2 separate regions of the Homo sapiens genome follow, and region 1 is linked to region 2. Evidence: fine-mapped expression QTL. A gene starts in region 2. The other region holds a variant in brackets. All regions are shown on one strand. Distances are between the middles of the regions.

Region 1 (15,929 bases), 140 kb before region 2:
AATCAACAGCATAGAGAAGACGATAAATGACCTGATGGAGCTGAAAACTATGGCACGAGAACTTCGTGACACATGCATAAACTTCAGTAGCCGATTTGATCAAGTGGAAGAAAGGCTATCAGTGATTGAAGATCAAATTAATAAAATACAGCGAGAAGACAAGGTTAGAGAAAAAAGAGTAAAAAGAAGTGAACAAATCCTCCAAGAAATATGGGACTATGTGAAAAGACCAAATTTACGTTTGATTACTGTAACTGCGAGTGATGGGGAGAATGGAATCAAGTTGGAAAACACTCTTCAGGATATTATCCAGGAGAACTTCCCCAACCTAGCAAGGCAGGCCAACATTCAAATTCAGGAAATACAGAGAACACCACAAAGATACTCCTCAAGAAGAGCAACCCCAAGACACATAATTGCCAGATTCACCAAGGTTGAAATGAAGGATAGTGTTAAGGGCAGCCAGAGAGAAAGGTCGAGTTACCCACAAAGGGAAGCCCATCAGACTAACAGCGGATCTCTCGGCAGAAATCCTACAAACCAGAAGAGAGTACAGCCAATATTCAACATTCTTTTTTTTTTTTTTTTTTTTTTTTGAGATGGAGTCTTGCCCTATCACCCAGGCTGGAGTGCAGTGGTGAGATCTCAGCTCACTGAAAGCTCTGCCTCCTGGGTTCACACCATTCTCCTTCCTCAGCCTCCTGAGTAGCTGGAACTACAGGAACCTGCCACCACGCCTGGCAATTTTTTTTTTTTTTTTTTGTATTTTTAGTAGAGACAGGGTTTCGCTGTGTTAGCCAGGATGGTCTCAATCTCCTGAACTCGTGATCCACCCGCCTTAGCCTCCCAGAGTGCTGGGATTACAGGTGTGAGCCACCACACCTGGCCTTAATATTCTAAAAGAAACGAATTTTCAACCCAGAATTTCATATCCAGCCAAACAAAGCTTCATAAGTGAAGGAGAAATAAAATCCTTTACAGACAAGCAAATGCTGAGAGATTTTGTCACCACCAGGCCTACCTCACAAGAGCTCCTGAAGGAAGCACTAAACATGGGAAGAAACAACCGGTACCAGCCATCGCAAAAACAGGCCATATTGTAAACACCATTGATGCTATGAAGAAACTGCATTAATTGATGGGCAAAGTCACCAGCTAACATCATAATGACAGGGGCAAATTCACACATAACAATATTAACCTTAAATGTAAATGAGCTAAATGCCCCAATTAAAAGACACAAACTGGCAAATTGGATAAAGAGGCAAGATCCATCAGTGTGCTGTATTCAGGAGACCCATCTCATGTGCAGAGATGCACATAGGCTCAAAGTAAAGGGATGGAAGAAGATCTACCAAGCAAATGGAAAGTAAAAAAAGCAGGGGTTGCAATCCTGGTCTCTGATAAAACAGACTTTAAACCAAAAAAGATCAAAAGAGACAAAGAAGGCCATTACATAACGGTAAAGGCATCAATGCAACAAGAAGAGCTAACTATCCTAAATATATATGCACCCAATACAGGAGCACCCAGCTTCATAAAGCAAGTCCTTAGTGACCTACAAAAAGACTTAGACTCCCAAACAATAAGAATGGGAGACTTCGGCACAGTGGCTCTCGCCTGTAATCCCAGCACTTTGGGAGGCCCAGGTGGGCGGATCACGATGTCAAGAGATCAAGACCATCCTGGCTAACACGGTGAAACCGCGTCTCTACTAAAAATACAAAAAATTAGCCGTGCGTGGTGGCGGGCACCTGTAGTCCCAGCTACTCGGAAGGCTGAGGCAGGAGAATGGCATAAACCCGGGAGGCAGAGCTTGCAGTGAGCCGAGATTACGCCACTGCACTCCAGCCTGGGTCACAGAGCGAGACTCCATCTCAAAGAAAAATAATAATAATAATAATAATAATAATAATAATAATGGGAGACTTTAACACCCCACTGTCAATATTAGACAGATCAACAAGACAGAAGGTTAACAAGGATATCCAGGACCTGAACTCAGCTCTGCAACAAGCAGACCTAATAGACATCTACAGAACTCTCCACCCGAAATAAACAGAATATACAATCTTATCAGCACCACATTGCGCTTATTCTAAAACTGACCACATAATTGGAAGTAAGGCACTCCTCAGCAAATGTAAAAGAACAGAAATCACAACAAACTGTCTTTCAGACCACAGTGCAATGAAATTAGAACTCAGAATTAAGAAACTCACTCAAAACCACACAACTACATGGAAACTAAACAACTTGCTCCTGAATGACTACTGGGTACATAACTAAATGAAGGCAGAAATAAAGAGGTTCTTTGAAACCAATGAGAACAAAGATAAAATGTACCAGAATCTCTGGGACACAGTTAAAGCAGTGTGTAGGGGGAAATTTATAGCACTAAATGCCCACAAGAGAAAGCAGGAAAGATCTAAAATTGACACCGTAAAATCACAATTAAAAGAACTAGAGAAGCAAGAACAAACACATTCAAAAGCTAGCAGAAGGCAAGAAATAAAAACTAAGATGAGAGCAGAACTGAAAGAGATAGAGACACAAAAACACACTTCAAAAATTCAACAAATCCAGGAGCTGTTTTTTTGAAAAGATTAACAAAATGGATAGACCACTATCAAGACCAATAAAGAAGAAAATAGAGAAGAATCAAATAGATGCAATAAAAAAATGATAAAGGGGGAATATCACCACCGATCCCACAGAAATACAGACTACCATCAGATAATACTGTAAACACCTCTATGCAAATAAACTAGAAAATCTAGAATAAATGGATAAATTCCTGGATACATACACCCTCCCAAGACTAAACCAGGAAGAAGTTGAATCTCTGAATAGACCAATAACAGCCTCTGAAATTGAGGTAATAATTAATAGCTTACCAACCAAAAAAAAGTCCAGGACCAGATGAATTCACAGCCAAATTCTACCAGAGGTACAAAGAGGAGCTGGTACTGCTCCATCTGAAACTATTCCAATCAATAGAAAAACAAGGAATCCTCCCTAACTTATTTTATGAGGCCAGCATCATCCTGATACCAAAGCCTGGTAGACACATAACAAAAAAAAAGAATTTTAGACCAGTATCACTGATGAACATCGAAGTGAAAATCCTCAATAAAATACTGGCAAACTGAATCCAGCAGCACATCAAAAAGCTTATTCACCATGATCAATTTGGCTTCATTCCTGGGATGCAAGGCTGGTTCAACATATGCAAATCAATAAATGTAATCCATCACATAAACAGAACCAACAACAAAAACCACATGATTATCTCAATAGATGCAGAAAAGGGCTTCCACACAATTCAACAGCACTTCTTGCTAAAAACTCTCAATAAACTAGGTATTGATGGAACGTATCTCAAAATAATAAGAACTATTTACCCACAGCCAATAGCATACTGTATGGGCAAAAACTGGAAGCATTCCCTTTGAAAACTGGCACAAGATAAGGATGCCCTCTCTCACCAATACTATTCAACACAGTGTTGGAAGTTCTGGCCCAGGCAATCAGGCAAGAGAAAGAAATAAAGGATATTCAATTAGGAAATGAGGAAGTCACATTGTACCTGTTTGCAGATGACATGATTGTATATTTAGAAAACCCCATCATCTCAGCCCCAAATCTCCTTAAGCTGATAAGCAACTTCAGTAAGTCTCAGGATACAAAATCAGTGTGCAAAAATCACTCCTATACACCATTAACAGACAAACAGAGAGCCAAAGCATCAGTGAACTCCCATTCACAATTGCTACAAAGAGAATAAAATACCTAGGAATCCTACTTACAAGGGATGTGAAGGAACTCTTCAAGGAGAACTACAAACCACTGCTCAACAAAGTAAATTAGGACACAAACAAATGGAAGAATATTCCATGCTCACGAATAGGAAGAATCAATATCATGAAAATGGCCATACTGCCCAAAGTAATTTATCGATTCAATGCCATTCCCATCAAGCTACCAATGACTTTCTTCACAGAACTGGAAAAAACTACTTTAAAGTTCATATGGAACCAAAAAAGAGCCCTCATTGAGAAGACAATCCTAAGCAAAAAGAACAAAGCTGGAGGCATCATGCTACCTGACTTCAAACTATACTACAAGGCTACAGTAACCAAAACAGCATAGTACTGGTACCAAAACAGATATATAGACCAACGGAACAGAACAGAGGCCTCAGAAATAACACCACATATCTACAACCATCTGATCTTTGACAAACCTGACAAAAATAATAAATAGGGAAAGGGTTCCCTATATAATATATGGTGCTGGGAAAACTGGCTAGCCATATGTAGAAAGCTGAAACTGGATCCCTTCCTCATACTTTATACAAAAATTAATTCAAGATGGATTAGAGACTTAAATGTTAGACCTAAATCCATAAAAACCCTAGAAGAAAACCTAGGCAATACCATTCAGGACATAAGTATGGGCAAGGACTTCACGAGTAAAACACCAAAAGCAATGGCAACAAAAGCCAAAATAGACAAATGGGGTCTAATTAAACTAAAGAGCTTCTGCAAGGCAAAAGAAACTACCATCAGCGTGAACATGCAACCTACAGAATGGGAGAAAATTTTTGCAATCTACCCATCTCGCAAAGGGCTAATAACCAGAATCTACAAAGAACTTAAACAAATTTACAAGAAAAAATCAAACAACCCCATCAAAAAGTCGACAAAGGATATGAACAGACACTTCTCTAAAGAAGACATTTATGCAGCCAACAGACATGTGAAAAAATGCTCATCATCACTGGTCATCAGAGAAATGCAAATCAAAACCACAATGAGATACCATCTCATGCCAGTTAGAATGGCAATCATTAAAAAGTCAGGAAACAACAGATGCTGGAGAGGATATGGAGAAATAGGAAAGCTTTCACATTGTTGGTGGGAGTGTAAATTAGTTCAACCATTGTGGAAGACAGTGTGGAGATTCCTCAAGGATCTAGAACTAGAATTACCATTTGACCCAGCCATCATCCCATTACTGGGTATATACCCAAAGGATTATAAATCATGCTACTATAAAGACACATGCACATGTATGTTTATTGTGTCACTATTCACAATAGCGAAGACTTGGAACCAACCTAAATGTCCATCAATGATAGACTGGATTAAGAAAATGTGGCACATATACACCATGGAATACTATGCAGCCATAAAAAAGGATGAGTTCATGTCATTTGCAGGGACATGGACGAAGCTGGACACCATCATTCTCAGCAAACTATCACAAGGACAGAAAACCAAACACCACATGTTCTCACTCATAGGTGGGAATTGAACAATGAGATCACTTGGACACAAGGCGGGGAACATCACACACTGGGGCCTGTCACGGAGTGGGGGTTGGGGGAGGGATAGCATTAAGAGAAACACGTATTGTAAATGATGAGTTGACGGGTGCAGCAAACCAACATGGCACATGTGTACCTATGTATCAATCCTGCATGTTGTGCACATGTACCCTAGAACTTAGAGTATATTTTAAAACAAAGATATACACTTATGTCAACTCTTTCTTTGTAGCAGTGCCCAGAAATTCAAAGAATTGTTGTTGTTGTTGTTGTTGTTGTTTTTAATATAAGAAACTTGGGTCATTATCATCTCTAGTAAATAGTCTCTGTATTCAAGGACCTCAAACATTTTCTGAAGAACAGTCTTGTTTCCCAAAGGCCTTGAGATAACCAAGAAACCGGGAAGAAGCATGGCAGAGAGGAAATGAATGAGATAGCAGTAACAACTGGTTCATACTCTGTTAGGGTGGGGCTTTAAGACTTACCAATAGGTGAGATCTTGTGTTAGAAAACATTGCCTCTTTATCTTTATAGATCAGGGCTGAAATCGTTATCTTCAACCTTGCTGAGACAACATAATAAAGGCCACGTCACTAGTATTTTCTTCAACAGACCTTGGTCCTACTTCTAAAATTCTCTGGCACTGAAGTGTAAGGAGAATCTATGGATTTGAAGAGATCACTAAAATGGTTTTGATGAATATTATACCAATTACTTTTATAAAATATATGAAAGCAAAACACATTAGGATAATCTGCATTCTGAAATGTTTTCAATGCTTAAATAATTAGATATAAACATTGAAGCCATATAATATAAAATGACTCTTAATTATTCCTTTCCTTCCATTTTCTGATTCCATATTTCTTGATATTTTTCAGGACATAAAAAATTTATTTCTTCTTGTATGGATCTTATATAGCTTGGTATGATTGATACCCATGTGTTATGACAATAATTTCTGTGGCATTAAAAGACAGTAGTCACTGCACCAAGTCAACCTACATTTATTGAGCCTCTGTACACACTATCATTTTGAACATCATAGAAAACTGGTCCTTTGCCTTCAAGTATAAAAACTGGCTACAGACAGAAAATATACATGCTTTGAATCCTTTCCAAAGTTAGGAGGTTGGTGAGCATAAAACAATATTGTAATAGCACAAATTAAATACATACAGGTAAGATATAATCAGAGTGAAAATGACAGACTAGACAGAATGAGTAATAATATATCTGATCACAGACAGTATCCATATCCCAGCCAGCAGATAGAGATTTCACAAGGTCCCATTGTCTTGGGATCCCACAGATAAACTAGGATTCCAGTAGCAGAGTGGCTAGCAACCCTGCCCCACTGGCAGCCCTGCTAAGATAAATGAGGGGGAGTTGGACGTGGGTCTTTCACCTAGCAAAGAGCATAATGTCTAGTTGTTTGACCAATGACAAGGGGTTCCTCACATGGAAAACTTATTTATACTGGAAGACACTCTTGTGGCTCTTATCTGACCTGTGTTTAGTGTATGCCTACCTAACCATCATTCTGGGGCTGAGAGGTCAACTGTGTGTTAGTCCTGACATCCCAGGGAAAACCCAGCCTGCAGTTTGGTTCTTGAGAATGGAAGGAGCAAATTCAAACCACCACCAAAATAGGAAGTTCAAGGATTTTTACTTTCAGAATCTGGGCAAGAAGGGTGCGATGAATCTGGAGGGCAATCTTCCATCCCCTGGCACAAGAGGAGAACATGAAGAGTTAGG[T/C]ATTGAGAAAGAGTGTGTGTGGCAACTAGCAGGATAGACAACGGACTAGGCTGTAGGTTACTAAGTTCACAGGCAAATGCCTATATGGTCTGTTTAAAGGAAGCAGTGGGAAAGCAGGGAGTACAATCTGCTAGCGGGGGAGACATCCAGAAGTTCTTAGCTTTGGCCATTGGCTTGAGCCATTTGGGCATGGTATAGAACTGCAAACTGTTTCAAGGGTGACTAACCCCTGATTCTAGTATGAGGAAGTTAAACTTATACTCAAAATGGATGCCAAGGCAACATAAAATTATAAAAATTCACTACACCCAGGCTTTGACATGCCCCAGTCTCTGATCTAGAAGAAAACAGCTCATCTTTAGTCACACTAATTAAAACCCTGGTGACATTGCCAACCCCAGGAAAAAAAATAAAAATAAAACATCTAATTCAGAAACCCAAAATAATCAGGAGGATGAAGAAATTTCTCTAGATTCACTGAAATGAATAAGAAGATTAGCAATTTCTTTAATAAACTAAGATGTTCAAAAAGATGTTATGCCCAACCATCAGGAAGTAAAAGGCCTCATTTATTTTGACAACTATTTATCAAGCACCTGTATGTGTCAGGCACTGTTCTAAGGTCTTGAGAGACATGACCATGAACAAAACTGCTCAGATACCTTCCCTTGGTGCTTATTTTCTACCAGAAGAGGTACTGAAAACAATACATAAATAAAAGATACAGAATGTCAGATGGTATGTTGGAAAATGAAACAGAAAGAGATAGGGTATGCTGGGGTGAGGATTCCATTTAAAGAGTGATTAGAGAGGACTCCCTCACTGAGAAGAGGATATTTGGGCAAAAACCAGGAGGAGGTGAGGAAGTAAACTCTTTTGGTATCTGTGGAAGAGTGCCCTAGGCCAAGGGTGTCTAATCTTTTGGTTTCCCTGGGCCACACTGGAAGAACTGTCTTGGGCCACAGAAAATACACGAACACTAATGATAGCTGATGAGCTAAAAATAAAAGTCACCAAAAAAAATCTCATAATGTTTTAAGAAAGTTTATGAATTTGTGTTGGGCTGCATTGAAAGTCATCCTGGGCCACATGCAGCCCACGGACCATGGGTTAGACAAGCTTGTTTTAGACAGAGGAAATAGCAAGTTAAAACAACCTGAGACAGCAATGTGCCTAGTGTGTCAGAGGCACAGCAAAGACTCCAGTGTGGCAAAGGGTGAGCAAGAGAGACAGAAATAGAAGCGAAACTTGAAAGGTAATAAGGAACCAAGTTGTGTAGGGCCTTGTAGGATGTTTTAAGGACTTATGCTTGCACCCTGAGTAAAATAGCCATTTCAGGGTTTTAAGCAAAGACATGGCATGATCTCACACAGGGTTTAAAGTGATTACTCTGCCATGTTGATAATTTTTTAAAAAAATCTAAACATATAATTTTTGTCTGCCTCTTAAGCCAGAAGTTTATAAAAATACTATATATCAGTTGAAAAAATAAATGCCTTGTCCTTAGTGTGCAAAAATGTGACTAATTCATCCTCATTTGGGCATGTGGCAAAAAAATGGTACAAGTTGGAACTGACCCATCTATCCTCTGTAACCCTGCCACCCGTACAACCAGTTGTACACACTAAGGAAACAGCTGGTCAGGATTAGGAAGGTAGAACAATAGGAAGGTGTGGGTGGCAGATGCTTCTCATCTCAAGTGCAAGTTCAACTACTGATCTGTCCTCCTTCTCCTACTCAGATGAATACCAGCTTCCTCTCGAGTACATTGATGACATTTTTATCAATAAAAAATAAAACTTCTTTATTTCAATTACTTTCTCTAAAAAATATTGCTTCAGTCATCAGAATAAAATGCAAAATCCCAACTTTGACATCCAAGGCTTCATCAATACAGCTCTGTTCTTTCCCACATTTTTTATCTTTCCTTAACACAGACCACGGGCTTCGGCCCAACTGAACTGCTATTTTCTACTTCTTTGCTCATGCTTTTGCTCCACTTAAAAGGCTTCCTGGCTCCCATTTCCTCTGGTCTAAATCACACCCAAAATGAGGAAACAAAATACATTTGAAAGAGCAAGAACTTAGAATGAGAAGCCCTGAGATACTAATTGTTTGGGATGTTTGTTTGTTTGTTTGTTTGTTTTGAGATGGAGTTTCACTCTTGTTGCCCAGGCTGGAGTGCAATGGCGCCATCTCGGCTCACTGCAATCTCTGCCTCCTGGGTTCAAGCGATTCTCCTGCCTCAGCCTCCTGAGTAGCTGGGACTACAGGCATGCGCCATCACGCCCGGCTGATTTTGTATTTTTAATAGAGACAGGGTTTCTCCATGTTGTTCAGGCTGGTCTCGAACTCCTGACCTCAGGTGATTTACCAGCCACCTTGGCCTCTCAAAGTGCTGGGATTACAGGTGTGAGCCACTGCACCCGGCAGAGATACTAACTGTTAAGTGTGAGTCACATCACTTGAACTTTCTCAGCCTCTTTCCTTATGTGCTACTACCTACCTTGTGGAATTCGTTATACATCAAATAGATGATATAAGTGAAAGAACCCATAGATTGAAAAAAGACACTACACTAGTTTAAATATTTATTCATTAAAAGGGAAAAGGTTGAAAATAATTATAGGTTATGTCAGACAATATTCAGGAATAAGAAGGCATGGTGATAAGTGTTGTCAGGAAAGAGGATGAGGGCTCCTGGAGTCTCTTATCCAATTGTACTTGGTTGTAGGGTGGAAAGAAAGAAATCAGGCCTGCCCCTAACATTTGTGGGGCTTAGGGCAATAGTACAAAAAGAGACCCATAATCTATATGTCACCATCATAGCAACAAAATTGCAAAATATGTGTAAACACTATGGTTTTTATATGACTGAAAGTATGCAAAATACCAAATTTGACTGAATTCAATTACTGTTACACATATCAGGGTGTTTTGTTGATAGACAGGTGATGTGATGAGTAACACAATAAAGATAAATTTAATGAATAAATTATCATACATTTTATAACATTTATTTTTTATATCTTTAGCAAAACCACTAATGATGTGCTATACATGTAAAATACACACAAATTTTTGAAGACTCACTACCAATAAATGAGAATGTAAATTATCTCATTAATCACTTCTGTATTGTTTAGATATTGATATAATTTTTTGTATATATTACATTAAATACAATATATTATTTAAATTATATATATATAGCCCTCATTTACTTTCATATTTTAGATAAAACTACTCAGCAAGCAGTCTAAAGCCAATTTTAGCTATTACCCCTTCTCATTTTATTTCTGAGTCAGGACACATAATAGAACATTTCTTGTAATCATTGTTCTTTCCATCCTTTTTTTGACTGGACATTAGAACATGTCAGGGGCGAGGGCTGTAGCTCAAGAACCTGCATAGGCCTAGGTTCAGTTGAAGTTCACCATTGGCTATGCTGTCTTCTGATTTCTGCCTTTTTCTTTAGAGTCACTATGAGGCAGATTTTTAGACTGGGCAGGCTGATTGGTGGGGAGGACTCTGAATTGAAATGGGCTCTGTGAACAGGAAGAGAGTGCAGCACCTTGAACCAGGCACAATCTCAGAGACCCCAGAAAATCACACCCAGAAAAATCTTCCTCCGGAAACTTGGAATACTGGAAAGAATTTTCTCCTAAAATAATGTCACATTAGGTAATGGACAGCAGCATTCAAATCACTTCCCATAAAACCATATTGCATGTTTTATGGAAGTCCTTGAGTATATTATAAAATCAGGGACATCAGAGCTCCCAGAAACAATCTTGAAACTGAAGAGGAAGCAGGACGCAGTGGCTCACGCCTGTAATCCCAGCACTTTGGGAGGCCGAGGCAGGGAGTTCAAGACCGGCCTGGCCAAGATGGTGAAACCCTGTCTCTACTAAAAATACAAAAATTAGCTGGGCTTGGTGGCGGGCGCCTGTATCCCAGCTACTCGGGAGGCTGAGGCAAGAGAATCACTGGAACCCAGGAGGTGGAGGTGCAGTGAGCCGAGATTACGCCACTACACTCTAGCCTGGGCAACAGAGCGAGACTCCATCTCAAAAAAAAAAAAAAAAAAAAAGAAAGAAAGAAATTGAAGAGGAATTGTAAATGGCTCATATTCTATCAGACAGAGCCTGATAGAATCATACCACTGGTATGAATTATTGTCTGGTCAACTCAAGCAGAGGAAGTGAGATGGTTTAAATCTGTGTCCTTGTCCAAATCTCATGTCAAATTGTTATCCCCAATATTGGAGGTGGGGCCGGGTGAGACGTGATTGGATCATTGAGGTGGATCCTTCCTGAATGGTTTAGCACCATTCTCTTGGTGCTGTTCTCATGATAGAGTTCTTGAGAGAGATGGTTGTTTAAAAGTGTGTAGCACCACCCCACTGTCTCTCTTCCTCCTGCTCCAGCCATGTAAGATGTGCCTGCTTCCCCACTCACCTTCTGCCATGATTGTAAGTTTTCTGAGGCCTCCACAGAAGCCAAGCAGAAGCTGCTATGTTTCTTGTACAGCCTGCAGAATGGTGAGCCAATTAAACCTCTTTTCTTTATAAATTACCTAGTCTCGGGTATTTATAGCAATGTAAGAATGAACTAATACAGGTAACAAATTCAGATAAGAATGGCTTAAAAATTCTGAATCTTTGTCTTTTTAATATGAATTATTTAGACTGAGGAAATAACCCAAGGATTTAGAACACTCAGGATGTTTGGGCATAGGATAGGGGTTGGGGGTTGATCACAGGGGCGGGTAAAGTAAATTTCCTTCCTGCTAGAAGGAGAGTTTGAAGAAAGGTATTGAGGCATCTGTACAGGGTGTTCCCTTCTCAAGGAACAGGCTGGGAAGCAGGGAGAGTCAGGGTCAGCAGATGCTTCTCAGCATGGCCTGGAGTAGAACAAGCATAACACTGAGTGGGTGAAATGAAAATGGTAACAGGAGAAAAGAAGGCAGGAAACCCTCTTGCTTTTTTTGTCTCCCTCCTCTTCCATTTTACCCCATAACACACACACTCTGTGGGGGAGGTATGTCCTGATAAAGAGTTTAAACACCAGGGTTGTACCCAGGATACAGTGTTGTTCTCATCCACAGAGATAAACAGGTGAGAGGACCTCCATTGTCCTTAAGAAAGCAGTAATGAGATACTTGACAGAAAGCTGATGGTAGAATGCATAAACACCCTCACAGAGGATGACCAAAAACATGTAAAGCTGAGGTGCAAAAAGGCAAGAAGTATTAATAAGCCATGAGGCCAAGCAGCCAAAGATATAACAGATACAGGAAAAAAAAAAGAAAATCAACTTTGTAAAAGAATATTGTTTGGCCAAGTGGGGAGAAACAAATAAACAATATAATTGGTCTTCTAACAGATGGGATGCAACACTCCCCTTTCTGAGCTATTAAATTTGATTTGTAGCTCTAGGCAGGTAGAAATAAAAATGAGAGGAAAAGGATCAGATCTGGAAGTCCTTTAGAACCTCATCCCAATTGGGGTTAAATGTAACAAAAACATTATTATTGGTATCAGGACCCAAATTGATGTGAACTTAGAGAAAGGCAGGGCAGTCTTCCTCCTTAAAATATTTTATATTTTAAAATTCGTGTTATACTGTCTATAACAGTCAAAGTTAGGCTGGGCACAGTGGCTCATGCCTGTAATCCCAGCACTTTGGGAGGCAGAGGCAGGAGGATCATCTGAGGTTGGGAGTTCGAGACCAGCCTGACCAACGTGGAGAAACCCCGTGTCTTCTAAAAATACAAAATTAGCTGGGCATGGTGGCGGGAACCTGTAATCCAAGCTACTCAGGAGGCTGAGGCAGGAGAATCTCTTGAACCCGGGAGGTGGAGGTTGTATTGAGCCGAGATTGTGCCATTGCACTCCAGCCTGGGCAACAAGAGTGAAAAAAAAGGCCAGGCACGGTGGCTCATGCCTGTAATCCCAGCACTTTGGGAGGCCAAGGCGGGTGGATTGCCTGAGGTCAAGAGTTCGAGATTAGTCTGGCCAACATGGTGAAACACTCTCTCTACTAAAAATACAAAAAAATTAGCCAGGCATGGTGGCATGCACCTGTAATCCCAGCTACTCGAGAGACTGAGGCAGGGGAATTGCTTGAACCAAGGAGGTAGAGGTTGCAGTGAGCCGAGATCGTGCCACTGCACTCCAGTCTGAGAGACAGAGCGAGAACCCATCTCAAAAAAAATGAAAACAAAATAAAAAACAAACAAAAAAACAGTCAAAGTTAGCCTGTTCATTACCCTTCTTTCTGTAGGGCAAAGATGCAGAAATACGTTATTTGCCTTTTTTTATTATTTATTCAACCAATATTCGTTGGCCTTTTTCTTCTAGTTAGATCACCATGAAAAATTAGAACAAAACTTTTTTAACCTTTGAACTCATCTTTTTAAATCACATAATATAAAAATAATTCATCTAATTAAACATATTTAAAAGAGATATTTGTATGAGCTAGTAACTTTTGGATATGGAGAATGTTTATTTTGGTTTTGGTTTTGTTTTTGTCCAGTCCAACAGAGCAATTTGGAAAGCTATGCTATAAGCACTTACAAGATCATGTTTTGGAAAAAAAGTTACTTGATAATAGACAAACTGTTTGTGAAAGTGTTACCAGAAAGAGGTCCCAATCCAGACCTCAAGAGAGGGTTCTTGGACCTCGCACAAGAAAGAATTCAGGGCATGCTCGTAGAGTAAAGGGAAAACAAGTTGTTTAAGAAGGCAAAGGAATAAATGAGTGGCTGTTCCATAGGCAGAGCAGTGGCAAGAGCTCCTCAGCTGCCTATACCTATTGTTACTTCTTGATTATATGCTTAAAAAAGGGTGGATTATTCATGAGTTTTCCGGGAAAGGGATGGGCAATTCCTGGAACTAAGGGTTCCTCCCCTTTTAGATCATATAGGGTAACTTCCTGACTGTTGCCATGGCATTTGTAAGCTGTAATGGTGCTAGTGGGAGTGTCTTTTAGCATGCTAATGCGTTATAATTAGCACATAATGAGCAGTGAATATAAGCAGAAGTCACTTTCTCTCCATCTTGGTATTGGTTGGATGTGGTCAGCTTCTTTACCACATGCTGTTTTATCAGCAAGGTCTTTGTGATCTACATATTGTGCTGACCTCTATTGGGATGATCAGGCCCAACACCAGGCCTTGTGGGCTACGAAGTCTGTTGGAGTCAAAGGAATGAGACAAGACAAGTTAAGAATGTGTAAAGTGGGTCCAGGGGGCCAACACTAGTATAGAGGCTGCGAAGGCTTGGAGCTCTAGAAGCCCACACTATTTATTGGTGATCAAACAAAGAAGCAGGTGGTGAGGATGTGAGGATGTGGGGGTAAACAGGTGAGGACGTGAGGACGTGGGGGTAGAAAGGTAGCAGTGCATCAAGCACAGTTGTGACTGTTTAGTATTTTCTTTGACACAAATGTAATATGTTCTGCTACCTGAGATAATGGAGAACATGTTTATGAGCCTGGGAGAGCAAGAAGCAAGGAACGAGCAAGTCTGTGCACATTCCAGTGGCCACAAGGGGTTTTATGCCCTGAGCCTTGGATTCCATCCAAGCCATGAGAGGTTTTATGCCCTGGGCTTAGATTGTAGTGCAGCAGGGCAGCCTTCCACCCTTTGGCACAGAACTTGGTGTTCCAAAGGCCACGAGGGGGTTTAGACCCTGGACCCAGGACGTGTTCCAAGACTCTTTTACATTATGACGGACAAGCTAGTCCCGCCTCAGCTCTTCTACCAACAACCTCCTATCTTATCTTGTGACTAAGAATGCCTTAACCTCCTGGGAATATAGCCCAGCAGGTCAAGATGGATTTGCTTTGGTTCCAACACCTCTAACAAAAGAAGTATAAGATGAAGCAATTAGGCCATCTGGACATCACCAGAAGGAGGTCAGAGTTTCATCATTTTGAATAAAGTATTTTGAATCTGTATTCAAAAGTAAAGTATTTTGAATCTGAATTTTCTACCTGACTGAGATATAACTTTATAACTATAAAAGATTATTTTTAATTTGAAGAAACTATACCTCATTATATAGTCATTGATTTTCATTACACAAAAAATAAAAACATGTATTAAAAATATGTAAATAATTGGCCGGGCGCGGTGGCTCACACTTGTAATCCCAATACTTTGGGAGGATGAGGCGGGCGGATCACGAGGTCAGGAGATCAAGACCATCCTGGCTAACATGGTGAAACCGTGTCTCTACTAAAAATACAAAAATTTAGCCAGGCGTGGTGGTGGACACCTTTAGTCCCAGCTACTTGGGAGGCTGAGGCAGGAGAATGGTGTGAACCCGGGAGGCGGAGCTTGCAGTGAGCCGAGATCGCGCCACAGCACTCCAGCCTGGGTGACAGAGAGAGACTCCGTCTCAAAAAAATAAATAAATAAAAATAAAAATATGTAAATAATTATACCAAATTGCTATTATACCAAATTGCTATTGGTGTGTGTGCGTTTATGTGATGAGGTATGTTCCTTCTTCTTTCCTCTGTTTTCTAAGTTTTTTTTTATATATTTATTTATTTATGAAACAAGAGTCTCACTTGGATGCCCAGGCTGGAGTGCAGTGGCACGATCTTGGCTTGCTGCAACCTCCACCTCCTGGGTTCAAGAGATTCTCCTGCCTCAGCCTCCTGAGTAGCTGGGATTACAGGTATCTGCCACCACACCAAGCTAATTTTTGTATTTTTAGTAGAGATGGGATTTCACTATATTGACCAGGCTGGTCTTGAACTGCTGACTGCAGGCGATCCGCCTGCCTCAGCCTCCCAAAGTACTGAGATTACAGGCATGAGCC
Region 2 (15,929 bases):
TCTTCCTTAGGAATTTATTTTCCTTTAGCTTATTGTAAGAATATAGTATGTAATGCATATAACAAACAACGTGTTAACTGACTTTACAGTAGGCTATTAGTAGTTAAATTTTGGGGAAGTCAAAACTTATACTCAGATTTTCAATTGTGCAAGGGGTTGGCACCCTTAACCCCATGTTGCTCAAGGGTCAATTGTACTGCCCTCTTATTGTCTTTGAGCATTCTTTTATTTCACCTCTCATTATGCATTATCTTTCAAAAATACATTTGCGTAGAACAACACAACCAGGTTCTTCTTGGCTGAGATTTAGCCATCTTATGCAACCAATAAAAGTGACTCCAGATAAAAGCAGACAAAAAACTTAACAGATGTAAACAGGAATCCTACAGCAGCCCTAAGAGTCCACAGTTCATATAATTTTAGTAAATCTTGCATGCTTTGGTGACTTTTTCAATTTCTATATCCTCATGAATAATTTTTTCAAAGTGCAGACTAACTGGATAAATGCTGGGGAAGGAAAATGAATTAAAACTAACATAATGCTCTAGATCCTAGCTATACAAACAAACTGGGATTCCCAACTAGTACTATCAGCACTACCTGGGAGCTCTTCACAAATGAAAATCCTAAGTGCCACCCTAGACCTACAGAACCAGATCTCCAAGTGATTCACATATATTAGTTAGTGAAACACTACCAAATCCATATGTCACTGAATCCTCAAAACAACCCTGTGAAATATGACTATACCTATTTCACAAATGAGGAAGCCTAAGCTCAGGAAGTTAAATGACTTACCCAAAGTCAAAGCCATCAATATTGGGAGATGCGATTCAAATTCAAATTTACCTTTAAAAATGTCTTTCTACAATGTATTGTCTCTCACAGAAAAGGTCACGTATTATCTAATAGAAATATGATGCAAGCCACGTATGCAATTTCAAATTTTCTATTAGCCACATTAATAATAAAAAGAGGCAGGGCATGGTGCCTCACATCTGTAATCCTAGCACTTTGTGGGTAGTGACACAGGAGGATGGCTTGAGCCTAGGAGTTATAGACCAGCCTGGGCAAGATGGTGAGACCCCCATTTCTACAAAAATAATAATAGAAAGAAACAGGTAAAATTAATTTCAATAATATATTTTATTTAATCCAACGTTTCTACATTACTGCTTCAGTATGTTTCAATATAAATTGTTAATGTAATATTTTATGTTCTTGGGTAAGCGTATGCATACTTCTTTGAAATCCAGTGTGTATTTTACACTTACAGCACAACTTAATTCAGACTGGATACATGTCAAGTGCTCAATAACTCCATGTGGCTAGTGGCTACTTTACTGGGCAATGCTGGTCTAGAATGTCTTGCATATTAATCTTGTTAAATACAAAACTGACAAGTCACTACAGGAATTGTTTAATAGAGACAATGAATTCAATGTTAATTTACCTAGACTTTTGCCGAAGACACATTAAAAAAGAAAACTGCATATTCTGTTATAATCAAAGTTAATGGGTTTAGGTAGCCCCAATTCTGCCAAACTGACCCATCACCTATTAACTCTCAGAATTTATACAGTTGACCCTTGAACAATGTGAGGAGTTAAGAATGTCTACACCCTGCGCAGTCAAAATTCCATGTAAACTTTTGAGTTTCCAAAAACTTAACTACTAATAGTCTACTATTGCCTGGAAGCTTTACTGATAACATAAACAGTGGATTAATATATGTTTTGTATGTTGTATTATATATTGTTTTCTTGCAATAAACTAAAAAAAAGAAAACATTATTTAAAAAATCGTAAGGAGGCCAGGTGCGGTGGCTCACGCCTGTAATCTTAGCACTTTGGGAAGCTGAGGCAGGAAGATCATGAGGTCAAGAGATCAATACCATCCTGGCCAACATGGTGAAACCCCGTCTCTACTAAAAATACAAAAATTAGCTGGGCATGGTGGCGCACACCTGTAGTCCCAGCTAATTGGGAGGCTGAGGCAGGAGAATCTCTTGAATCTGGGAGGTGGAGGTTGCAGTGAGCCAAGATCGCACCACTGCACTCCAGCCTAATGACAGAGCAAGACTCCATCTCAAAAAAAAAAAAAATCATAAGGAAGAAAAATATGTTTACATTCATTAAGTAGAAATGGATCATCATAAAGGCCTTCATCTTTTTCAGGAGGACGAGAAAGAAACATTGGTTTTGCTCTCTCAGGGGTGGCAGGGGCAGAAAAAAAAAGTATTGTATAAGTGGAACTACACGGTTCAAACCTTTGTTCAATGGTCAACTATAATTTCAACTGGGCACAAAATAGGGCATACATGTAATACTTATAACAATCATGTGAAGAAGCCCTCAGAAAACTCCCACATTATTTGAAACCAAAGTTTTTTTAAAGTTGGAGGAGAAGGGATGCTTTTATTTTAACCAATAGGGGGATGTAAAACAGAACAGTATGATTTCAACTACAGGCCAGAATTAATTTGCCAAACATAAATAACTCAAACATACATAATTCCTACTGGAATGAATGACCTGTAAATTTTACACCAAACTTAATATGATGATGTATGAAGAAGGTAACATAAAAAAAAGAAAAAGTCTAAAACCAAATTAGATACTTTGCCCCTAACAATTCTGGAGGAAAAAAACAGTGACAGGTAAAACTTAAAAATACACAAAGGGGTTTAGGGATTATCAATGAATTTAAATCTTGACCCATTCAAATAAGTGAAAAATAAATACAACTAAAAATGAAGTAATATTGTACCATTTATAATTTGTAACAACTCAAAATACTCATACTCCCACTTTTCAAGTCAGTCACAAGATCAAAGTCAAGAGTTTTTTTCAGGTAATAGATTCAAGCAAGCGATTATCTTTAATCAAAGAAAAAGATGAGCATATAACATCAATATAAATACATATAAAAACAAAGACAAATATCAATTATAAATATTTGAAGACTTACTGTATTTTTCTAATTATTAACAGCTAATGTTTAATAAGATTTTTGCCATTTATTCAAAATACACAAAACAGTAAATGTTCTACATGAAATCACTCAGTGACAGAAAGAAAAAATACTTGAAATGTTCCAACTTTTGGTACACAACTCAAAAAAAATTATATATACATAAAAGGAGTAGATAAATCAGGTGTGAGTTAGCAGACACATCTTAGTATTTTTTATAAACCAGTCACAAATTGAGAGATGTAACTAAATGCCCTAATGTCTCAATTTTTAGCCCTCATCATCTCCTGCTAAAAATTAGCTAAGAAAAAGCATAGGTCATACTTGGAAACTTCAGACAAAACTCATTTCAACTAAATGGGGTCTGATACTTTAAAGAATTATTTCCCTTTAAGACGTTACTATGTGGCAGTCTACTTACTGCCTTCACAATCTTTATACTAGCCCATTAAACCCTTTAATTTTTCTCAAAACAACAAAAAAGTGAGCTTTGCATTTTATTTCAAAACATGAGATGTAAAAGTGAACGAATATTGTCTTTTAATCATATCACACACAGATGTTTCTTAGCCAGCAACCATTTCATAAATAAGAAAGCTCTTTGGCAAATTATCTGTGTGACCTTGGTCAAGTCATAACCCCCAGTCTTTTGTTATCTCATCCTACTCTATAATTCTGTAATTCTAAGTTCTAAATGCTTTAATTAGCAGTCCGTTAACAACATTTTGGATTTGAATTAACCCAAAAGGTAACACGCCATGAAAACTAAAGATAGTCCGTAAGTAAGCACAGGTGGTTGTAGCCAAGTGTTACATAAATTAGTTTCTATATCCACAAAGATGTTGTTTCACAAATTCAGATTCCTCAGGCACAAGGCAACCAAGAGAATGGAAAAGGCTCAGTACCTTCTATTACTAACACGGGAGAAAAATACGCATTCGAATTCCCAACTGTCAGTGCTGTTAGATGTTTCCTGGTAGTATATGGTTAACATATAAAATAATATTCTTTAAAAAGATCGATATTGTGAAAACAAAAGATTTAATATCCTTTTCTTCTTTTGACTCAAAATATCGTTTTGGATCCTTTAAAAAAAAAAGTCTGTTCCTTTCCTCTGACAAGTTAGGTTGGTGGAGACTGAAACAAAACACTTTGTAAGTTGACATCTCCTTTTAAAAGAAGTTATTTCTTTTTTCTTCTCTTGTCTAAAAGACCAGCTATTTGGAGAGAGTTTTCCTGATAATTATAATTCTACCAAGTTCTGAACAACCAGCGAAGAAAAAAAATATTTAAATGTATTTCCAGTCTGCCCACATGATACACTGGCTCATTTGAGACATAAATTCTAAATGAAAGATTGGGCTGAACAACATCCTCCACTTTAAGATATACAAGGCACCAAAACAAACACATCCAAAATCTATTTTTAGAGTGGTGTTCACTCTTCCGGTTTTCTCTTTAAAACGAGATTTAGTTGACCTATTTTCATGTGTTTTTAGGGCACCCAGACACTCTATACAAACAATATTTGCTAATCATAAAACAGCAAAGCCAAAATCACAAATCCTGTTATCTGTGTGGGACATTTTCTCCACGTGTCCTTACGTGCCATGTCTTTGAAAAGTCTAAATATAGATTCACTGACTAAAATGTCCTAAGTCTTCCAAATTCTATAATTATATACTGGATTGAATGCCAATATTATACGTTCACATCCCATTTGAAAAGTACACACACGAGGTGGGGGGGATGTGCCCACTACCTGAAATGCCAATCATACAAAGAACAAAGCGTACCCTATCATCTTTGGGCTTTCTTCTCTCCTCAGTTCTACACTGTTTCGATATTACAAAAATATTAAACAAAATGTTCAAAACTTGAGAAATAAGTGCTCACTAAAATGGCACTTAGAGAAAATAAATTAAAACATATACCAATATGATTAACGAGAAAAGATTCTAGTTGCCAGGATGTGTGTGTAAACTTACAGTCCTGTAGGTTTTACCTGTGGAGAGGACGGTTCCGTCTCCACTCTTAAAACAATTTTACATTCTTTAGAAGCCTTAGCAAAATAAATAGCGACAACAATGGAAGACCCACACTCCTTCAGACGGGATGGAGGGTAGGAAGAGAACTCCCCACCCAACAATCAGAACAAAGCAACAGCCTCAGCTTTTAAGATGCAGAGGGTTTGGAGGCTCAAGGGATATTCTGAGATCTCTTAATTGTTCCGATGCTTCAACAGCCGTCAAAAACAACTAAGAATATGCAGCGCTGGGCTTCACTAGGACAAGGTGCAGGGATTGCTCTCTTCGTTTTAGGCAAGACCGAGACACTGAGCAGGAGAAAAAAAAGGAGGAAGAGCGAGAGAAGAGAAAGCAGCAGCCAGAGACACTCCGGGAAAAGGCAAAAATGCAGACTGTACGCCCTGGCTTCGATCTGACCCAAGGCCCAAACTGTCTGACCCCACACGGGAAAACATGGAGCAGGCTACCGCCGAAAAACCATCGCCGCCCCTACACCTCGAGGCCAGAAGGTCCCCGGGTAAAGGCCTAAAACCACGGCCCAGAGGGGAGGAGAGGGACCCGCCTGCCACCCGAGGCAGCGAAGCGGGCTCAGGCGGAAGAGGCTGCGCAGTAATGGCCGCTGCTCCGCCCCTCGCACCCGGACCGAGACCAGCTCCGGCCGTCACCCAGGGCAGGGGCTGCGGCGCCCTCGGGCAGCGCAGGGGCTGTCACGGTCGTCTTGCCTGCCCCAGCAGCCAAGGCGGGGGTGGCGGAAAGGGCTGAACTGTCCCATCCCGCCTCTGCGCGGACAGCCGGGGCCGCGCCAGCCCAAGGGCGTCCATCTACGTACCGGCCCCTGACCCCGCCGCCGCCCCTCTCAGGCCCCGAGCGCAAGGCCGACCCGGAGTACGTTGCGGCTGGAGGTGACACCGCGAGCTATGCCTCCTCTCCCCGAGTGAGGATCCTAGAGTGGCCGGCGTTCACCCTGCTCCCCCGAGAGGGCCTCGCTCCGACTCCCACCTCTCCGGCCACAGCTGCGGCCACCTCGCAGTCTTTTCTCTCTGGCCTCGGAGCCCGCAGCTGCCGGGAACGCGCGCGGCCGTCACGTGACCACCCGGCGCGTCGCGGAGGAGGGGCCGCGACGCGCCGCGCACCCGCACCCGCACCGGCGAGCTAACTCCGGCGCCTCATCGTTCTGCCCCTGTCTCGCGCCGCTGTCTGCCGGTACTCTCTTGCCTGTGGGGAGCGGCGACTTCGCTGCTTGCATTCTTCTGGCTTCTTTAGAGTGTGCTTGCTTTGTATTAGGGCCCAGAGGCTCTGAAAGAGTGCAGTTCCAACAGAAAGAGATTTGGGGTGGAGGAAGTAAAACGTGTGTAGGACCAGCAGGTGGTGCTGCTCAAAAATCCAGCTTTGCTATCCTGAGGAAGCTCTGGGGCGCCTAGCTGAGTTTCGGCTTAAAGATCCCTTAGCAAAAGTACTGCTTGTTCCCTTTCAAGAAAAAAAATGGGGAGGGGGGGGACGGAGGGGAGAGAGTACTGTAGGACTTTCCAATTTGTTCTCCTTTTTAATGGTTGAGCAATTTAATCGGGGAAAAAATGAGTATTAGTTTTCTTTTGAAACCCCACCCTTTTTTTAAAAAAAACAGAATAGTGCCTGAGAAACTGAAGAAATTAATCTGCATGATAATCTAAAATTAAAGAGGTTATTTTGATCGCAAGCCTGTGGTTTTAAACATCAGAACTCTAGCAGTAATTCACCATTTTAGCATGTACATTTCCTTTTTCAGAACTGATTAAATTTTCCTAATTTGTAGGAAAATGAAGAGGGTGGAAGAGCAGACCTTTTATCTTTAGAAGAGTATGTATTTCAACATTCTATGACAGCGTCTTCTCATTTGCATTAGTGTTGCATTTTGGGATTTCATTAACTGTTTGATTCAGGATTGGAAGTTTTCAGTGTCCTTATAGGTATAGAAATGTATATGTTTTCTGTTATTCCTCTGAAATCAGTTTATTTCAGGGTTCTCATTCATATATATCAATATGTAACCCAATCTCTTGAAGGGTGCATCTAGTTCAGTGATGCTTGCGCGTGTATGCAATACTGTTCCATACATGTAGAAATATTGAAGTGTATATCCTTTAACTTTAAGCTTAGTTTTCTATCTTTATCTTCTTATTAGCCACTCAGTTTTGTCCCTCTATCCTACACAGCCCATGAACAGAGAATAGCTAAAATTTGATATGTACTCGAAGATTCCAGCTTGAAGAGGTAATGCTAATATTAACTAACAATGTGCCAGGTGTTGCTCTAAGTGCTTTATTCATATATACCCACTTAATTCTCATAATAAACTATGAGGTAGGCACTATTATTATTCCCATTTTACAGAGAGAGAGACACACACAGCTGAGATTTGAATCCAGGCACAGACTGTAAGATGTCAGCTAGTTCAACCCCTTCTCACTCATACCCAAGGTCTTTGTATTTCAGTAAATGGTTGCATCTTTCCTTGTTCAAACCCACCTTTAACTCCTCTCTTTTATGTCTTATATGCATTTGGCATATAACCTGTTGGCTCTTCCTTCAAAGTATATCCAACTACTTACCACCTCCGCTACAATCTGCATCATCTCTTGTTTGGATTATAGTGTTACGGTAGACCAGGAACTAGTCTTTTGACTCTATCCTTAATACAGAATCCTAAATAAATCTACTTAAAAAGAAGTGAGATCGTACCACTCCTTTGCTCAAAGTCTCCTGTGGCTTCCCAACACAAGTAAAAACCAAAGTCCTAACGATGGCTTTAAAATCCTCCCCTCATTACCTCTTTGACCCCACAGACTGTTTACCCAGCTTTGTATTCCCAGAAAGCTCTCCACAAGCTGCCAACCTCATAGTCTTTGCAGTTGTGGTTTCCTCTGCTTAGAACACTCTTCCCCATCATGCTCCCTCCATATGTGCTCAGATGTCCAACTCTTCAGTCAGTCCCTCTACTTGTCAGCATATTTTAAGTCATGATGTTTCCATTCCCAATATTTCATATTTCCTCCTTTACTTTTTAATACTTATCACAGTGTAATGGATAATTTATTTTACTTACTAATCTTCATCATATTTCTCATCACATTAGGACGCAAGACACAGGAGGCCAGGAATGTGTGTTCTGTTTTGTATCTCAACTGCCAGGAATAGTGCCTGACACACTTAAAGAGGTTCTCTGTAAATATGTGTTACATGAATGAGTAAATGAATGAATGAATGAATGAATACACACATGGCCGGGCAGTAGCTCACGCCTGTAATCCCAGGACTTTAGGAGGCCGAAGTGGGCGGATCACGAGGTCAGTAGATCAAGACCACCGTGGCTAACACAGTGAAACCCTGTCTCTACTAAAAACACAAAAAAATTAGCTGGGCATGGTGGCACGCGCCTGTAATCCCAGCTACTCGGGAGGCTGAGGCAGGAGAATCGCTTGAACCTGGGAGGCGGAAGTTGCCCGAGATCGTGTCACTGCACTCCAGCCTGCACTGCAACAGAGCAAGACTCCGTCTCAAAAAAACCCCAAAAACCACATTTGTGTATGTGAGTGTGTATATATATCCCCATTTATATATATATATGAATATATATATATCTCCATTTATATATATATATGAATATATCCCCATTTGTATATATATATGAATAAAAGTGAACTTCTCATTTTTCAGTAGTTGCATATGAAAAGCAGAATTGAATGCATGGAATACTATACACCCTACCTCCATCAGCCACTTGAAAGAAAGATAGAAGTTTATATCTTTGAATAACACAGGACAGCACCTCTCAACATTGTCAGAGTGCTGGTTTCCAGTAATTAAGAGTAACTGGTTTCCAGTAATTTTAAGTACCAAAACTTCAAATTATTTGCTTAAATAAATCAGAGCCTAACAGTTTCAATGTATTTCTGTAATAATGTTACTGTCACTGGGATTCCATTTTGCTTCATTGAATCAAAGGTAAAGAAGTTGCAGCTGACTGCTAGGAATTACCCAGTTGCCTGTTTGCTTATAGCTTATTGTCTATTTCCCACAACTTACAAAATACTTTGCTGAATACCACACATCTCCAGGCACCTACTCTTCTCCATTTATCCTTCCAACACTCAAAAATTGTCCAATGTTATTTGTTTTACTTAAGGATCAAAGCATTTTTTTTTGTTTACTTAATATCTGAAGACATCCATGAAAATGCATGAGAAAATGATGTGTTACAATAGAATGTACGTTGAAACCACTCGTGGCTAGTTTAGGGCGGCGGTGTTCCAAGTGTTATCTAGTGACCCATAGGGGTCCTTTGACTCTTGCAGAGTGTCTGAGGGAAAATTGTTCTTATAATAATACTAAGACTCTAGTTGCTTTGTTTACTTGCACTCTCAAATGTACAGTGGAGTTTTCCAGAAGCTACATGGTATGTGATGTAGCAATAGATTGATTATAGAAGCAGATATGAGAATTTGACTATATCTATTAAACCAGTCATTAAAACGATGTAAAAAAAAAAAAAAAGTAAAACTGCACTCTTCTTTCATTCAGTTAGCTTTGTTTTGGAAAATGTAGTGTTTTTTTTTTTAATAAAGTATGTTAATACAATGAGTCATTTTTAAATGAATTAGTATATATTGTAAACCATTCTCAATTTCAACTTTTAATTTGGTAAATATTGATTAGCTCATAAAAGTTTTTTGGGGTCTTCTATAAATTAGCACTGTCAAAGGGTCCTGAGACCAAATAAGAATGCTTGTCTGGGGCTATTTTGCTTACCAACTCTAAGTTAAATTTCTTCCCTTTTCACATGCCGGCAACCATCTGATAGCTGTGGACACAACTTTCTCATATGCCTGGAAACAGAACAAACCAGATTCAGGAATGTACCAGTCATTATAGCTAGCAGATGAATGGAAATCAAACCAAGAGGAAGCTTTGGAAAGCAAACTTTGTTTATTTTAATTAAAAACTTTGTTTCCAGAGCTGATACATAGGTTGGTTTCTGTCCTATCATTTGATGTTCTACTTACAGTAATCAAACAGTATATTATTTTCTAGTAGAACTCCTTTGCAAATAATAGTACACTAGCCAGTTTAGCTTGTGTTTTTCTTTTACCTACTGTGATTATCAATGCTTTCTCTTCTAATGGTTCTTAATGTTCCTGCGTTGCCCACAGACATTACAACTGAATTAGGATAATGTATGGCTAGAAAATAGCCCCAAGAGTCACTGAGTTAAACTTTATAGTTTGACTATAAAGTCAACGATGCATTTATTTCCTAACCTGGTTGTATGTATATAATATGTATTTATTAATTTTTAGATGTCTTATATTGACAGTAGTAGCTCTGATGTCTCCAAAGTCCATGCTTGTTTCATTAAATGACATAACCTTTCATTGACCATAGTATTAAAAGATAAGAATAAATGCTGTATTTTAACAGTGGAGGTTTTTTAAGCTAGCTTATTATTTTAACAAAATAGTCCCTTAAACAATGTACTCCATCACATAAAGGAAATTGCTTAAGGTCATCAAGGCAGCAACTATGTTTTGCAATGTCACATTTTCCTGTATCAGTTTAATATAATTATAACCTAAAAGTTTGAAGTATTTTCACAGAAGTTTGTCAAGCAAGATTCTCTTTGGAAAACAAAAACCACCTTAAGTATTTCAGACAGAGACTCTAATGTAGTGAAATGGTGGTGAAAGTGTTAGAAAACTGGAGGAACCAAAAAAGAAAGATGAAGATACCTTGAAATCAGTAACTGCAGAAAGTCACTGGCTCATCTAAGTTTGGAGGAGCAAAGGGTGTTCTGGGAGCTCCTGGAGGCTGCTAGAGCACTTTTTATGAACTGCTATAATAGGAAGTCAGGGTCCCATATGCACACTGAGCCTGCAGAAGTCCAGGAACTCACAGCCATAAGCAGTCACCTACCACTCCAATGTCAGAACCAGAAACGAATAGGAAAGAAATCACCTTCTCCTTTCCACTTACTTTTTCCATGTGATTGCCTTCAATTGACAAAACTAAACAAGAAACCATCTGTCAAAGGATTCTCAAAAACAACTTTTTCCAGCTCCATTAGATATAAAGCAGAACATAGAAATGCCATTGTGAGACTGGGCATCAAATATGTGGTTCAAAAAGTTTGAAAAATGATTTATTATATTGCTCAAGGTGATATATATTCTGAAATATGGAAAGAACTAGAATAATTGATTGCCTATTATTTTCTAAGCTCTTAACAAACCATTTTTTTCACCATAATGATCCAGGTCCACGAATATCTTTTCATCATTGTTCTATGAGACAACTGCAACTCATTGAGGTTACCAGTGTTCACAGGTAGCCCAGAGTAGAACCACGGTGAAGAGAGAGAGACCAGCTGAGGGGAATATGGACATGCATCAGTAAAGGTTCAGTAAAGACACGATGAGTCCTAGGATCAGGAGCGCCATAAACTAATTCGGGCATGCTACTTACTGTATCCAAATGTCAATTTTTTTATATGTAGCCATAAAACGGGTAAATTATCACCTCTATTCAGAGATTTGATAATGAAATTTAAGATAAAGTACTTGGCCAAGGTTGAAAAACCTTAGCTATTACAATTACATTATTTGACCTGTCTCAAATTCTGAGCTAGTTCCGCCAGAGCCTCTCATTCAGTCTACTAGAAAGCATAAGAATAAATACCTATAATTTCATAACTTCTATTGTCTTTTGGCAAAAACTGATAAATTATTTTCTTTTTCTGTTTTATAGAGTCTATATATATATATTTTTATACTTTAAGTTCTAGGGTGCATGTGCACAACGTGCAGGTTTGTTATATAGGTATACATGTGCCATGTTGGTTTGTTGCACCCATTAACTCGTCATTTACATTAGGTATTTCTCCTAATGCTATCCCTCCCCCAACCACCACCCTACAACAGGGCCCAGTGTGTGATGTTCCCTACCCTGTGTCCAAGTGTTCTCATTGTTCAATTCCCACCTATGAGTGAGAACATGCGGTGTTTGGTTTTCTGTCCTTGTGCTAGTTTGCTCAGAATGATGGTTTCCAGCTTCATCCATGGCCCTGCAAAGGACATGAACTCATCCTTTTTTAGGGCTGCACAGTATTCCATGGTGTATATGTGCCACATTTACTTAATGCAGACTATCATTGATGGACATTTGGGTTGGTTCCAAGTCTTTGCTATTGTGAACAGTGCTGCAGTGAACATACGTGTGCATGTCTTTATAGTAGCATGATTTATCATCCTTTGGGTATACACCCAGTAATGGGATCGCTGGGTCAAATGGTATTTCTAGTTCTAGATCCTTGAGGAATCGCCACACTCTCTTCCACAATGGTTGAACTAGTTTACACCCCACTGACAGTGTAAAAGCATTCCTATTTCTCCACATCTTCTCCAGCATCTATTGTTTCCTAAATTTTTAATGATCACCATTCTAACTGGTGTGAGATGGTATCTCATTGTGGTTTTGATATGCATTTCTCTGATGACAAGCAATGACGAGCATTTTTTCATGTGTCTGTTGGCTGAATAAATCCCTTCTTTTGAGAAGTGTCTGTTCATATCCTTTGCCCACTTTTTGATGGGGTTGTTTATTTGTTTCTTGTAAATTTGTTTAAGTGCCTTATAGATTCTGGATATTAGCCCTTTGTCAGATGAGTAGATTGCAAAAATTTTCTCCCATTCTGTAGGTTGCCTGTTCACTCTGATGGTAGTTTCTTTTGCTGTGCAGAAGCTCTTTAATTAGATCCCATTTGTCTATTTTGGCTTTTGTTGCCATTGCTTTTGGTGTTTTAGTCATGAAGTCCTTGTCCATGCCTGTGTCCTGAATGGTATTGCCTAGGTTTCTTCTACGGTTTCTATGGTTTTAGGCCTAACAGTTAAGTCTTTAATCCATCTTGAATTAATTTTTTGTATAAGGTGTAAGGAAGGAATCCAGTTTTAGCTTTCTATATATGTCTAGCCAGTTTTCCCAACACCGTTTATTAAATAGGGAATCTTTTCCCCATTTCTTGTTTTTGTCAGGTTTGTCAAAGATCAGATGGTTGTAGATGTGTGGTGTTATTTCTGAGGGCTCTTTTCTGTTCCAATGGTCTATATCTCTGTCGACTGTATATACTGTAGCCTTGTACTATAGTTTGAAGTCAGGTATGTGATGCCTCCAGCTTTGTTCTTTTTGCTTAGGATTGTCTTGGCAATGCCAGCTCTTTTTTGGTTCCATGTGAATTTTAAAGTAGTTTTTTCCAATTCTGTGAAGAAAGTCATTGGTAGCTTCAGGGAGATGGCATTGAATCTATAAATTACCTTGGGCAGTATGGCCATTTTCATGATATTGATTCTTCCTATCCATGAGCATGGAATGTTCTTCCGTTTGTTTGTGTCCTCTTTTATTTCATTGAGCAGTGATCTGTAGTTCTCCTTGAAGAGGTCCTTCATTTCCCTTGTAAGTTGGATTCCTAGGTATTTTACTCTCTTTGTAGCAATTGTGAATGGAAGTTCACTCATGATTTGGCTTTCTGTCTGTTATTGATGTATAGGAATGCTTGTGATTTTTGCACATTGATTTTGTATCCTGAGACTTTGCTGAAGTTGCTTATCAGCTTAAGGAGATTTTGGTCTGAGACGATGGAGTATTCTAAATATACAATCATGCCATCTGCAGACAGGGACAATTTGACTTCCTCTTTTCCTAATTGAATACCCTTTATTTCTTTCTCCTTCCTGATTGCCCTGGCCAGAACTTCCAACACTGTGTTGAATAGGACTGGTGAGAGAGGGCATCCCTGCCTTGTGCCAGTTTTCAAAGGGAATGCTTCCAGTTTTTGCCCATTCTGTATGATATTGGCTGTGGGTTTGTCATAAATAGCTCCTATTATTTTGAGATCTGTTCTATCAATACCTAGTTTATTGAGAGTTTTTAGCATGAAGGGCTGTTGAATTTTGTCAAAGGCCTTTTCTGCATCTATTGAGATAATCATCTGGTTTTTATCATTGGTTCTGTTTATGTGATGGCATTACATTTATTGATCTGGGTATGTTGAACCAGCCTTGCATCCCAGGGATGAAGCCCACTTGATCGTGGTGGATAAGCTTTTTGATGTGCTGCTGGATTCGGTTTGCCAGTATTTTATTGGGGATTTTGCATCGATGTTCATCAGGGTTATTGGTCTAAAGTGCTCTTTTGTTGTGTCTCCACCAGGCTTTGGTATCAGGATGATGCTGGCCTCATAAAATGAGTTAGGGAGGAGTCCCTCTTTTTCTATTGATTGGAATAGTTTCAGAAGGAATGGCACCAGCTCCTTTTTGTAGTTCTGGTAGAATTCGGCTGTGAATCCGTCTGGTCCTGATCTTTTTTTAGTTGGTAGGCTATTAATTATTTCCTCAATTTCAGAGCCTGTTATTGGTCTATTCAGAGATTCAACATCTTCCTGGTTTACTCTTGGGAGGGTGTATGTGTCCAGGAATTTATCGATTTCTTCTAGATTTTCTGGTTTATTTGTGTAGAGGTGTTTATAATATTCTCTGATGGTAGTTTGTATTTTTGTGGGATTGGTGGTGATATCCCCTTTATCATTTTTTATTGTGTCTATTTGATTCTTCTCTCTTTTCTTCATTAGTCTTGCTAGCGGTCTATCCATTTTGTTGATCTTTCCAAAAAACCAGCTCCTGGATTCATTGATTTTTTGAAGGGTTTTTTTGTGTCTCTATCTCCTTCAGTTGTGCTCTGATCTTAGTTATTTCTTACCTTCTGCTAGCTTTTGAATTTGTTTGCTCTTGCTTCTCTAGTTCTTTTAATTGTGATGTTAGGGTATCGATTTTAGATCTTTCCTGCTTTCTCTTGTGAGCATTTACTGCTTTAAATTTCCCTCTACACACTGCTTTAAATGTGGCCCAGAGATTCTGGTATGTTGTGTCTTTGTTCTCATTGGTTTCAAAGAACATCTTTATTTCTGCCTTCATTTCATTATTTACCCAGTAGTCATTCAGGAGCAGATTGTTCAGTTTCCATATAGTTGTGCAGTTTTGAGTGAGTTTCTTCATCCTGAGTTCTAATTTGATTGCACTGTGATCTGAGAGACAGTTTGTTGTGATTTCTGTTCTTTTACATTTGCTGAGGAGTGCTTTACTTCCAACTATTTGGTCAATTTTGGAATAAGTGCAATGTGGTGCTGAGAAGAAGGTGTATTCTGTTGATATGGGGTGGAGAATTCTGTAGATGTCTATTAGGTCCACTTAGTGCAGAGCTGAGTTCAAGTCCTGGGTCTCGCTGATCTGTCTAATATTGACAGTGGGGTGTTAAAGTCTCCCATTATTATTGTTTGGGAGTCTAAGTCTCTTTGTCTGTCTCTAAGGACTTGCTTTATGAATCTGGGTGCTCCTGTATTGGATGCATATATATTTAAGATAGTTAGCTCTTCTTGTTGAATTGATCCCTTTACCATTATGTAATGGCCTTCTGTGTCTGTTTTGATCTTTGTTGGTTTAGAGTCTGTTTTATCAGAGAGTAGGATTGCAACCCCTGCTTTTTTTTTTTGCTTTCCATTTGCTTGGTAGATCTTCCTCCATCCCTTTATTTTGGGCCTGTGTGTGTCTTTGCATGTGAGATGGGTCTCCTGAATACAGCAGACCAATGAGTCTTGACTCTTTATCCAACTTGCCTGTCTGTGTCTTTTAATTGGGGCATTTAGCCCTTTTACATTTAAGGTTAATATTGTTATGTGTGAATTTGATCCTGTCATTATGATGTTAGCTGATTATTTTGCCCGTTAGTTGATGCAGTTTCTTCCTAGCCTCGATGGTCTTTACAATTTGGCATGTTTTTTGCAGTGGCTGGTACCAGTTGTTCCTTTCCACGTTTAGGGCTTCCTTCAGGAGCTCTTGTAAGGCAGGCCTG

Evidence for each region.
Region 1: its variant is fine-mapped to the expression of RNF146 in blood mononuclear cells (TOPMed, PIP 0.97).

The regions. Positions count from the first base shown.
Region 1 is chr6:127,396,213-127,412,141 of GRCh38, reverse strand. No RefSeq gene overlaps it. Among named protein-coding and RNA genes, the nearest start is that of KIAA0408, 55 kb to the left of the region's middle. RefSeq lists an enhancer at 7,792-7,901 and a silencer at 14,220-14,407. The variant T/C (reference allele first, on the strand shown) is at 7,091.
Region 2 is chr6:127,256,996-127,272,924 of GRCh38, reverse strand. RNF146 (ring finger protein 146) reads right to left here and starts at 6,061. Exons shown (of 3, transcript NM_001242850.2): 1 at 6,000-6,061. RefSeq lists an enhancer at 5,373-5,432 and silencers at 5,633-5,902, 6,003-6,102.